2 separate regions of the Homo sapiens genome follow, and region 2 is linked to region 1. Evidence: fine-mapped expression QTL. A gene starts in region 1. The other region holds a variant in brackets. All regions are shown on one strand. Distances are from middle to middle. Region 1 holds the start of LPCAT1 (lysophosphatidylcholine acyltransferase 1). Region 2 overlaps LPCAT1 (lysophosphatidylcholine acyltransferase 1).

Evidence for each region.
Region 2: its variant is fine-mapped to the expression of LPCAT1 in whole blood (TOPMed, PIP above 0.99).

The regions. Positions count from the first base shown.
Region 1 is chr5:1,521,067-1,526,570 of GRCh38, reverse strand. It overlaps LPCAT1 (lysophosphatidylcholine acyltransferase 1), which reads left to right and starts at 2,611. Exons shown (of 14, transcript NM_024830.5): 1 at 2,611-2,861. The coding sequence starts at 2,727. RefSeq lists a cis regulatory region at 1,219-1,454, silencers at 2,224-2,623, 2,644-2,953, 3,224-3,423 and an enhancer at 4,584-5,088.
Region 2 is chr5:1,493,511-1,498,510 of GRCh38, reverse strand. It overlaps LPCAT1 (lysophosphatidylcholine acyltransferase 1), which reads left to right. Exons shown (of 14, transcript NM_024830.5): 3 at 3,597-3,811. LOC124901162 (a long non-coding RNA gene) reads right to left here. Exons shown (of 2, transcript XR_007059103.1): 2 at 2,992-5,000. Among named protein-coding and RNA genes, the nearest start is that of MIR6075, 15 kb to the left of the region's middle. RefSeq lists an enhancer at 3,375-4,574. The variant G/A (reference allele first, on the strand shown) is at 2,004.

The DNA of each region.
Region 1 (5,504 bases):
CTGCAGGGTGGTGGTCTCCACCCTTGCTACTACCACTGGCTGGCCTTCCCAGTTCTCTCCTGGCCAGTCCTCCTGGATGGGGCAGTTCCGTGGACTCAGCCCCTCTGGGGACCTCCGCTCCTTGGCCGCTCTCTGGGGCCTTCTTGGGTTCTGCTTGGTGAGGACGAGTGTGCCCCAGTCCTGCCCCCTGCTCTGCACAGCCCTTGGCCCTGTCACACCCACCCTCCCAGCTGTGCCCCCTTGTGTACTGACCCCGGAGCTGGGCCTCTGCGCCTCCTCCACATGGTGCCTGTGACCCAAGGATCCACTGAGCTTCTACACCAAGGCCACGCTGCCCACAGTGGCTCCACCTAAGACCCCTCTGGGAGAGGGACTCCTCTTTCCACCGACCTTGGCTCAAGGACAACCTGCTGACCCTGCTTAGATTGCCGGGCAGTATGAGGTTCTTCCCCCAGCCTCCCCACCTCCTTCCCTGGGTTCCAACTCACTTTGCACTCTGCAGGTTAAAGCAGAAGGAATTTATTCTCTCCCAGTCTGGAGGCCAGAAGCCTGCGATCATGGCACCCTAGGCCTAGGCTCCCTCTGAGAGCACTAGAGAGGACCTGCTCCAGGCCTCTCCAGCTCCTGGGAACTGCTTGCCTGTAGCAGCAGAACCCTGGCCTTCCCATGGAGCTCTCTCTGTGTCTGTCTCTGAGACCGAATCTCCCTCTCTATAGGGACACAAGCCATTTCAGACTAGGGCCCACCCTAATGACTTCCTCTTAACCTGATCATCTGCAAAGACCCTGTTTCCAAATAAGGTCGCGGCCACAGGTGCTGTGGGTTAGGACTTTTGCATCTTCTGGGGACACAGCCATGACTCTCTGGCAGCTCTCCCCATTGAATCTGGCTCTGCACCATCTCCAGCAGGTTTCCCCTCCGCCACACACCGCTTCCTGGCCTGTGCTTCTGGGAGGACCCCACTTTCATGGCTCTCCAAGTCCAGTCCTGAGGCTGCTCTCATCCCAGGACTGGGACACCCTAGGGCCCCTCCTCTCCAGAGCACTCAGGCAGCAGGTGGGGCCGCCTGGATCGCTGGGGTGCAGGTGCTGCCCTGTGGCTGGCAGGCTTTGTGTCCTGGGCTTTCTTGATGATCAGTTCGGTGAGGAGCCTTGGGTGGCCTCGGGTGCTGGGCTCTGGTTTTGGGGATCAGAGCAAGTGGCCACTAAAAGCCCAGGAGGTGGGTGCAACGCTGGTGGCTGGGCCACAGAGCCACCAATGCCCACCAGCACACAGGGCTCACCCCATCCCCGTGGGTGTGGCACTTGGGACAGGTGCTGCTGCTAGGCATGGGCTGGGACTCTTATGGGGCAGGAATATGGGCTGGGACTCTTATGGGGCAGGAATAAGGCCATGCAGCGGGTCTGGCCTGCCGGGGCCTTCTCTGTGCATGATATGTGGATGGCACAGACCCCTGGCCCTCACCCCGGTCTCAGACACAGAAGGGTCTCTGCCAGCCCGCTGCACTATGAGGTCCACAAGGGCGCAGGCAGGGTCATTGGAGGGGTCGGGGCACTCCCTGGCGTCTGCTGAGGATGGGGCCCAGCTGGGGCCAACACAGCAGTGACATCCCCAGGAGCCAGGACCCTGGGGGGTTGGCCAGGTGGCCCAAACCGGCTCTGTCTGGGTGAGGTCCGTTGGCCATGAAGGAACCAACAGGGCCAGCCGGGGTGAGGAAGCCGTGAGCACTGTGACCGAAGGCCTGCGTGAGTTCTGAAATCCAAGCGTGTTCACCCGGAGGCAGGAGCCCATCCTACTCTCGCTCCGGCTAATTATGGGCCCCACCCTGGGGCTCCTCACACGGCTCCTGAGCACCACAAGGGCAATGCCCGAGCCAAAGCAGCTACGGGTGAGAAAGCGCTGGGATCTCATCGCAGCCCCTGCACAACCAGCACGGACAGTCAGGGCCCCTATGTGCGCCTCCTGCCTGGGCCATCCCTGCGGGGCCTGAGGCCTGAGAGGTCCTGAGATCGGAGGGGTCCTGAGGTCTGAGGGGGTCCTGAGGCTTGAGGGGTCCTGAGATCTGAGGGGATCCCGAGGTCTGGGGGGTCCTAAGGTCGAGTGGACCTCAGGCGGGAGTCGCCTGGGCTGAGGCGCGGCTGGAAGAAGCTCCCTCAGCCCGGGGCAGCTTCCAGGGTCGCCGGTGCGAGCTAGGAGCCCAACGAATAAGAAGAATGGCGTGGGGCCTTCGCCGGAACAGCCCGGGGCTCGGCACCCAGGGCCTGGCCCGCCTTGCGCGTAAGCTGGACGCGTGCCCGCCCCTTCCTCCCTCCCCGCGAGCAGGCGGGCCGAGCGGCGGAAGGGGACGACGTGGCAGCCTCGCGGGCCCGGGGGACCTCCCTTTCTCCTGGCGCAGACCCTGCCGGGGATCCCTGTGCTCCAGTGGCTGCAGGAGGCGCCCCCGGTCCCCAGCGGCCCCGGCCCCCCACAGACCCCAGAGAAACCACCAGGTAGCGGAACTCCGGCTGGTGCCGCCCCTGCCGGCCGGCGGGAGGCGAGGCTTCCAGGGACGCCCCGCCCCGGCCGGCGCTCCCGCTCCGCCCACGTCACCTCCCGCGCCTGCGCGCCCGGCCCGCTCCAGCCGCCGCGCATCCTCGGCCCGCGCCCCGAGACCCGCGCCCAGCTAGCCCCGGCCCCGCTCGGCGCCCCAGGCAGCTCGGCTGCGCTCGCCGCGGGACGGCGCGGCCATGAGGCTGCGGGGATGCGGACCCCGGGCCGCCCCTGCCTCCAGCGCAGGGGCCAGCGACGCTCGGCTGCTGGCGCCCCCGGGGCGGAACCCCTTCGTGCACGAGCTGCGCCTCAGCGCCCTGCAGAAGGCCCAGGTGGGTGCCCAGGGCGCGCGGCCCCGGGAGCCGGCGCGGACGCCAGGGATGCTGGGGCCAGGGAGGCGCGGCCGAGGAGGGGCCGGGGAGGGGGCCTGGGGCGCGGCGCGGCCCTGCGAGCCGCGGCGCCTTCCCTCCCCGCGGCCGCCCCTCAGTTCGCGTCCCCGCCGCCCGCACCCGATGCCTCGGTCTCGGCGCCGGCTTCCCGCCGCCCGCACGCGCATCCTGGTCCCTCAGCGCCTTCCTCGGGGTCCCCGCTTCCCATCCCCGCCCCGCGTTCTGCTCCTCCCCCCAGACCCCTGCACCCTGAACCGGGCCCACAACCCTTTCTCTGCCTCCCAGAGCCCCGACCTCGGCTCCCGCGGGAGGCTGGACCCGCATCGCCGGTCCCCGCGCTCGTCCCTGGTCCGGGCCCCGCCCGCCTTGGCAGGCCCTGCGCGCAGCCCGGGGACTCCGGAGCGGCTTTGCCTGGACGCGGCCCGCGGGCGGGAGGGCACCGCGGCTCTGGGTGAGCCTCGTGTGCGGGGCCTGGTGGTGCCCGGGACAGGGCGCGCGGGCGGTGCGGGTCCCCTGTAGGGTCCCCTGTAGGCGCACGGGTCTCCCTGCTCTGCGGCCGCACGTTGCCTTCTGGGGTGCATGCTTCGCTCCTGTTGTAAGGGATGCTTTCTCGGGGCTGGTCTGACCCGAATCAACTTTATGCAACCTGGGCTGCCACGTGGGAGGGAACGGTTTGCTGAGATCCTGCGATGGGACAGTGGTGAGGGGAGACCCGGGGGCGTCGTGGGGAGGGGGCCGCTCGCTGCAGGAAGCTGCACCGGGGATGTGCTGGCTCAGCCTGGCTTTTCCGGCTACCTGGCTGCCAGCTGGGCTTACAGTTACCTGAGATCCACTCTCAAGAGGACCTTACTTTTGACTCTAGAATAATTCCTAGAAGCAAGCACTGTTTCGGGGCCTATGGGGCTGTCCGGTTTGTAGGGAGCACGCTTCCAATTGTGAGAATAGATTTCCGGGAAGATGGAGATTTGTTAATGCATAAAGTACTTTATCTGAAAGAACCCTGAAGTGAAAAGTTCTTGAGGCCAGTTTGAGCTTGTCATTTTCCCAGGACGCCTGCTTTTGCTCAAAGCCCCTTGATGCGGCTGGTCCTCAGGGTATGGAAGGGGACGGGGAGCAGGAGAGCCCGATGGTGCCGCCCCTCCTGGTGACACACAGGGTGAGGTCGTCCCCAGCCTGGCTCCCAGGCCCTGGCCCCCGTCTCCCTGTGTGTCGGGAGCTGGACTCTGGGGCTGGGGCGGTGCCGGCCCCTCTGCCGCCGCTCTGCCTGGCCCTCTGTCTGCCACACGCTGTCAGCTGCCGTGTGCTGTGCCCCTCAAAGGAGGACTTGGGACACGGTCGCTCATTCTGTGCCCCTCAACCATTCCTCCTCTTCAATCCTCACCCCCACCCAGCCACCAGGCTCTCTCCCTGGTCACTCTCCCTGAGTCACTCCCAGCAGGCTTTCTTCCTCCTGCACTCTGCTGCTCGGAAGCCCTCAGCGGGGACGCCCCCGGATGAAATTCGAACCCCTGCTGTGGTTTCCAGGGCTTCCCCAGCCCTGCTCCTGCCCCAGCTATGGCTGCCTCAGGCATGCTCTCTCTTCCTGCCTTTCCTACTCCCTCCTGGCTCCCTGGGGGGAAACATCAAGCCCCTCCCTGGAGGTCCCCGGAGGCCACTTCGTCATCCCTGTCATAGTTGCAGCCCCCGGTTGAGGTGTGTTCTGTCCAAAAGTGTGCACCCACTGCCCTGGCGAGAAGCAGGGCAGAGACTCTCATGGGTAGGTACAGATGTCAGGGCACTGCCAGAGTGCCCAGAGGGGCCTGCTTTCCTCCCCGAGACCTCAGGGTGCAAGCTGCTCCCAGTGGCTCTTGGGCAGGGGGTCATCGAGAGGCTCCTGGTCCCGAGATTGAAGGCTTTGGGCAGCTGTTCTCCCTTGGGCCGAAGCCAGGCAGAGATCCTGGCTTGAGGTGTTGGGGCCTCTCAGAGAGGGGGCTTGCTTTGTTGCCACTTCAGAGGTTCCATCTGAGGAATTAGGTGTGTTTGTACATCCAGTCGTTTCTGCTGGATGTCTGCAATGTGTGGCTCAAGGGTTTAGTTTGTAAACGTTCTCAAAGTTCTCTGCAGAAACATTTTGCTTTTCACCAAGCATTGCTTTGCAAAGCTTTTACTTTGATGTGATATATTCTTGTAAAGTTTCCACAGAGTGAAATAGCCTGTCTTTCAAGCCAAGAAAGCCTTCTTCCCCAAAGAAAGAAATGGGTCCAGTAGTGGCTGACACACTCAAGAACCCGCAGAAACCCAGCTAAGTTCCCAGTTGAGATAAACCAGTGAGTACCTGCATTTACCTGTGAGCATTTGCCGCCTGGGAGGGGCTGCTGTGTGTCTTCGGATTAGCGCCATGCGGGGACACCTCCTCCTCCAGCCAGCCCATCTGTCATTTAACTACAGATTTAGTGAGGAGCTTAAGTATCTCTTTGGACAGAAAACAGCACATTAAGATCTGAAAAGAGGTATCAAAGCCATCAGGGTCTGTAATACGTGCAATGTTTTAATCCTCTGGCTAAAGCAAGGATATAGATTTAGTAGAGAGCGGTAAATGGTATGGTA
Region 2 (5,000 bases), 28 kb after region 1:
GATGTCTGTGTATGTGTGTGAATGTGTGCATGTGTGGGAGTATGCACGGATGCTTGTGGGCACTCAAGCTGCCCGTGCTGCCTGGCATTGAATCCCACCCCTGGAGCCCCTGGCGTCTCCTTCAGCAGCACTGATGAAAGCTCCCTTGGTGCACAGTCCTGGGCTTGGCTTGGTGCTTGAAGGGAAACAGAAGAGAGAACAAACCCTGAATTCTGAACTCCCCAAGGGGAAACCTAGTCACAAAAGCACCGTAGTTAGGGACGTAAGGGATCAGGAGGAAACTGAATTTGAAGTAGCAGATTCAGAGTGTACCGCTGAATAATAATTACGTAGTCGGTTTGGGACTTAAGTTGGCTCACGTTATGCACTGCTCTGCAGTTTTGAATAGATTGATGTTGAGTTAAAGCATTTTTGCTGAATGTAAGTTAGTGTCATTCAAACCTTCCTAAAATAAAAATCTTAGGCTTTCAGTGAAAGAATGACACAGTTTCGCAAAAGGCACTATTTTAGGTTACTTTCAACACACACAGTGTTGTAAAAACCGTAGCATCGTTTTGCAAAACCCGACCATCTGGCGCTGAATCCTTGACCACGGGCCAAGTCCTGAGCTGGGCCAGGTCCTCCAGGGGCTGCCCCTTGGCTGACCGGATGGTTCAGATGGATGGTGCCCTTTCCTGAATGCTCTGTGTGGGAACACCTGTTCCCAAGTTTGGGGATGCCATCCCCATGATGACTCTAGGTACTCCCCGTATGTTGGCCTGGAGGTTGGAGCTTGAACTTGAGCATCAAACCACTTTATCTGGTCTCCCAGAAGCCAGCAGCTCCTGCCACCTGCGTCTCAGCCTGGGGCTGCCCCTCCACACCTGCCAGCCCAACACAGCCCTCCCACCAGCCACCCAGGGGCCGTCCCTGACCCAGCTAAGCCAGTCCACGTGGATCACCAGACTTGCCTCCTTGAAGCCCCGCCAGACGTGGCCCCAGGGCCCCTTCCTTTGCCCTACCCCACCGGCCTGGCACCGTAGCCAGCACTCAGGCTGTGTACATGTGTATAGGTCCTCTCCAGGGCCGGCTCCACTCTGCCTCTTGCCTCTGCTCACAGCAGAACATTTGGAACCTGCAGAGCCGGGGCCTGCGCCTGCCCCTCACGCTTAGACGTGTGGGCTTCCCCCACCCACCTCCACATGCCAGCTGGCTTGAGGAGATGCAGGCCTCAGCGGCCTTCCTCCTTTTCCCCCTGCATGTTCTGGGAGATTTCCTCCTCCTCATTTCCCAGTCTTTCCTGTGAGTTGCTTGTCTCCACAGTGACAGTCTTGGTTTCTGAGAGTGTTTTCTTGTTCTTTGATGCTCCTCAGCGCCCTGTTCTTCCAGACTCTCTTGGCGAGCGTGGTGGATGTTTTGCACCCCTCTTCTGATGCCCACCCTTTCTGTCTCCTTGGGGTCAGTCCTCTGCTTCTCTGCCATGCAGCTGCTCTGCTCACACGTCTCAGGATTCTTGGGTGTCGTCCGTGTGAGGGCGGTAGGACGGAGTGGATTTCCTGGGGGTGCTGATGGAGATCCCCGCTCCTGTGTATGCAGATAGATCTGTCTCCTGATTCACATTCCCCTGGGAATGGGCTGCCCAGGCACCTGAGCACCCTGGGCTTGTGCTGGCTCCCTTTGCCTTGGGGTGAGTGGGTGCTGGGTCCCCAACCCCACAGCAAGCGGAGCTTTTCTCTGAGGCTGTCATCCACACCAGCAGTCCGGGTTTTCACATGTGGATAGTTTGGGTATAAAATTCCTCCAAGATCTTTAGAGAAGAGCTGAGGCTGCTTTTTCCCTGCCCCGACACCCAGTACAGTTCCCCTGAGCACCGTCTGTCCCTGCAATTCGATTTCGGGGCTGGCAGGTGTGTTCCTCTAAGGGCCGCCCGGGTTTTAATCCCTTTTTTCCTGCTGTCCTCTCTCCTGCCCCTGAACCTGCCCGAGACTGGCTCCTGTGCCCGCCGCAGCCTCCTCTGCAGCCTC[G/A]CTTCTCCCTCCGCCGCTGCCTTGTTTCTTCCATCTTAGGCATCAATTGCTGTCTTTTGGCTTTTGTTTTTGTACTTTTTTTTTTTTTTTGTGGAAAATAACATGTGCACAGAAGAGTACATCTTTATTTTTTAGTTTAGTTTTCTTGAGATGGAGTCTCACTCTGTTGCCCAGGCTGGAGTGCAGTGGCGCAATCTCGGCTCACTGCAACCTCCGCCCCTTGGGTTCAAGCAGTTCTCCTGCCTCAGCCTCCTGAGTGGCTGGGATTACAGACGCCTGCCACCATGCCCAGCTAATTTTTGTATTTTTAGTAGAGACAGGGTTTCACCATGTTGGCCAGGCTGGTCTTGAGCTCCTGACCTCAAGTGATCCACCTGCCTTGGCCTCCCAAAGTGCTGTGATTACAGGCGTGAGCCACCATGCCTGGCCAGAAAAGTACATTTTTAAATATGCAGCTGAACAGGTGGTGAAGAAGTGCACACCTGTGTAATCCCCCCTCCTCTAGACAAGCAGCACCCTGGGTTGGTCCCCAGCATCTCCATGTGTAACTACACCATTGTTTATCATCGCATACACAAAGGCCATTCCAAGGTGGCCCCACGAGAGGAGGCTTTGTGCCCTCCTAGCAACCGCCTTGGCTCAGATCCATGGGGACCCCTGTCCTGGAAGTCTTCTGGGAGGATCATCTGTCCCAGGGCAATGTGAATCCAGTAAGGCTTCAGGCTCTTGTTTCTCTGTGCAGTAGTTTTACCCAGTGTGATGCGCCCACTTAACCCAGTGGCCGAGTGAGCCGTGGCTTCTCATGAGGCTGAATCATGTTCTCTGTGTGCCTGACCTGTGGCTTCTCACACACCGTGGCTGTCTGCTGCGTGTCAATTCCCTGAGGTGTGGAATAACAGCCTAATCTGTAGCCTCATATGAAAGAGAATACACACATTTAAAAGGCTAAATTTGTACCTATTTTAAAAAGAGATAAAGAGTACACAAATTCAGTTAACCTAGGCTGATTTTTACTTTATTTTCCAAATTTATTGGCCATCTAATTTCCTCCAGAAACAGCTCACTGTAATAACACAACGCCTGGTTGTGGGAACCCCGGGCTTCCTGTGGAGATGAGATGGGGAAGTTCGCACGCAGGTCTCAGCTTCCGCCCTCAGCTCTGAGCGCCCCCCCCCCCATATTGCGATATGCGTTTTAGGTGTTTTAATGTTTTTCCCATTTCAAAATGATAGGATGCTGATAAATAAGTTGCTAACATGAAGGTCCGGAGGTCTTCTGGCCTGGGACTTGTGCTGTCTGTGTTCCGGAGTCTCATGTTGTCTTAGCACTGCCTGCCGCGTGGCCCGTGACCACCACACAGGGCCCCGCGGCCTCCTTCGTAGGTGAGAGCGCAGCCAGCGAGGACACAGGCGGAGGCCAGGAAGGCGCGGCGTCTTTTCTTCCCTCAAGCAGATGTCCCAGCGGCGGCGACCACAGGAAGCCCGTGGCCTGGACTGCGCCCTGGAGGGCTCTCCCGTGGGACCGCCCCTGTGCCTCACACAGACTCCGAGACTGCGGACGTGTGCCCGCGTGACGCAGCGCCCTCTTTTGCAGGGTTGTGGACTTCCTGCTGAAGGCCATCATGCGCACCATGTGGTTCGCCGGCGGCTTCCACCGGGTGGCCGTGAAGGGGCGGCAGGCGCTGCCCACCGAGGCGGCCATCCTCACGCTCGCGCCTCACTCGTCCTACTTCGACGCCATCCCTGTGACCATGACGATGTCCTCCATCGTGATGAAGGCAGAGAGCAGAGACATCCCGATCTGGGGAAGTGAGTGAGACACCCCTGCTGGGAGTGAGGGACCCTGCCCTGCTGGGAGTGAGAGATCCCCCTGCTGCTGAGAATAAGAGATTCCCCTCCTGCTGGGAGTGAGGGTCCCCCCTCTGTTGGGAATGAGTGAGACCCCCTCTGTTGCTGGCAATGAGGGACTCCCTGCTGGTTTTTAGGGACCCCCCCTTCTGGGAATGAGAGATCCCTCCCTGCTAGGAATGAGGGACCCCCACTTGCTGGAAATGAGTGAGACCCTCCCTACCGGGAGTGAGGGACCCCCCCCCCACCACGCTGCTGGGAGTGATCGAGCCCCCACCGCCGGGCACATTGGCCTTGTGCCCCATTTTCTGTGTTGGGGTTTCCTGTGTAATTTTCGTTGTTGTAATTGTTATTTTTATTGCTACCTGAGTGCCCTCACTATCATAACAGGCTACAGTGCTTGCTCCAGGTCTGCTTGGCAAGGGTGGCTCACCTTTATCAGATGGCAGTTCTGGAAGTCTTTGGGAGCAGGTCGGCAGGGCTGCCCATGCACCGCGGCTGTGCCGTGAACCAGGGACCTGAGCACCTGGTGCTGCCATGACCCCTCCCCAAAGCCGGGGGCTCACTCCAGCAGAGATTCACCCTCTCGTCATCTGGGGACCAGATGTTCAAAATCAAGGCGTCTCTGGGCCGAAGGCCCTGTGCGGCCCCTTCCTGCCTCTTCCTCCTCTGGGGGCTGCGTCCCTCTGACTCTGCCTCAGTGGTCGACTGGCCTGGCTCCCTCCAAGTGTCTCCTCTATGAGTCTCTTATAAGGACCAGTCATTGGGTGATCCAGGATGCTCTCATCTTGAGATCCTTAACGAGTTACCTCTGTAAAAACCTTTTTCCAAATAAGGCCTCATTCACAGGTTCCAGGGTCAGCATGTGGACCCATCTTTGGGGGCCGCATCCCATGGACCCACTGCTCTGGGAGGACTGTAGGGAGCCCTGCGTGGCCCCTCACCCACCTGTGCGCAGCCCTGACCCACCAGAGCTCTGTCCTCGGTGCTCTTCAGGGCATCTGGGCCCGTTCTGTCCTCGTGCTTCCTTCACAGCCGCCATCAGCACAGCACAGCACGTTCTGGGGCACAGCGGGTCCTGGGTTGGCAGTGGGCGGTGCTGAGGGAAGGAGCTGCTGGGACGAGGGGCGTCGCCTATGGCCGGGGCCCT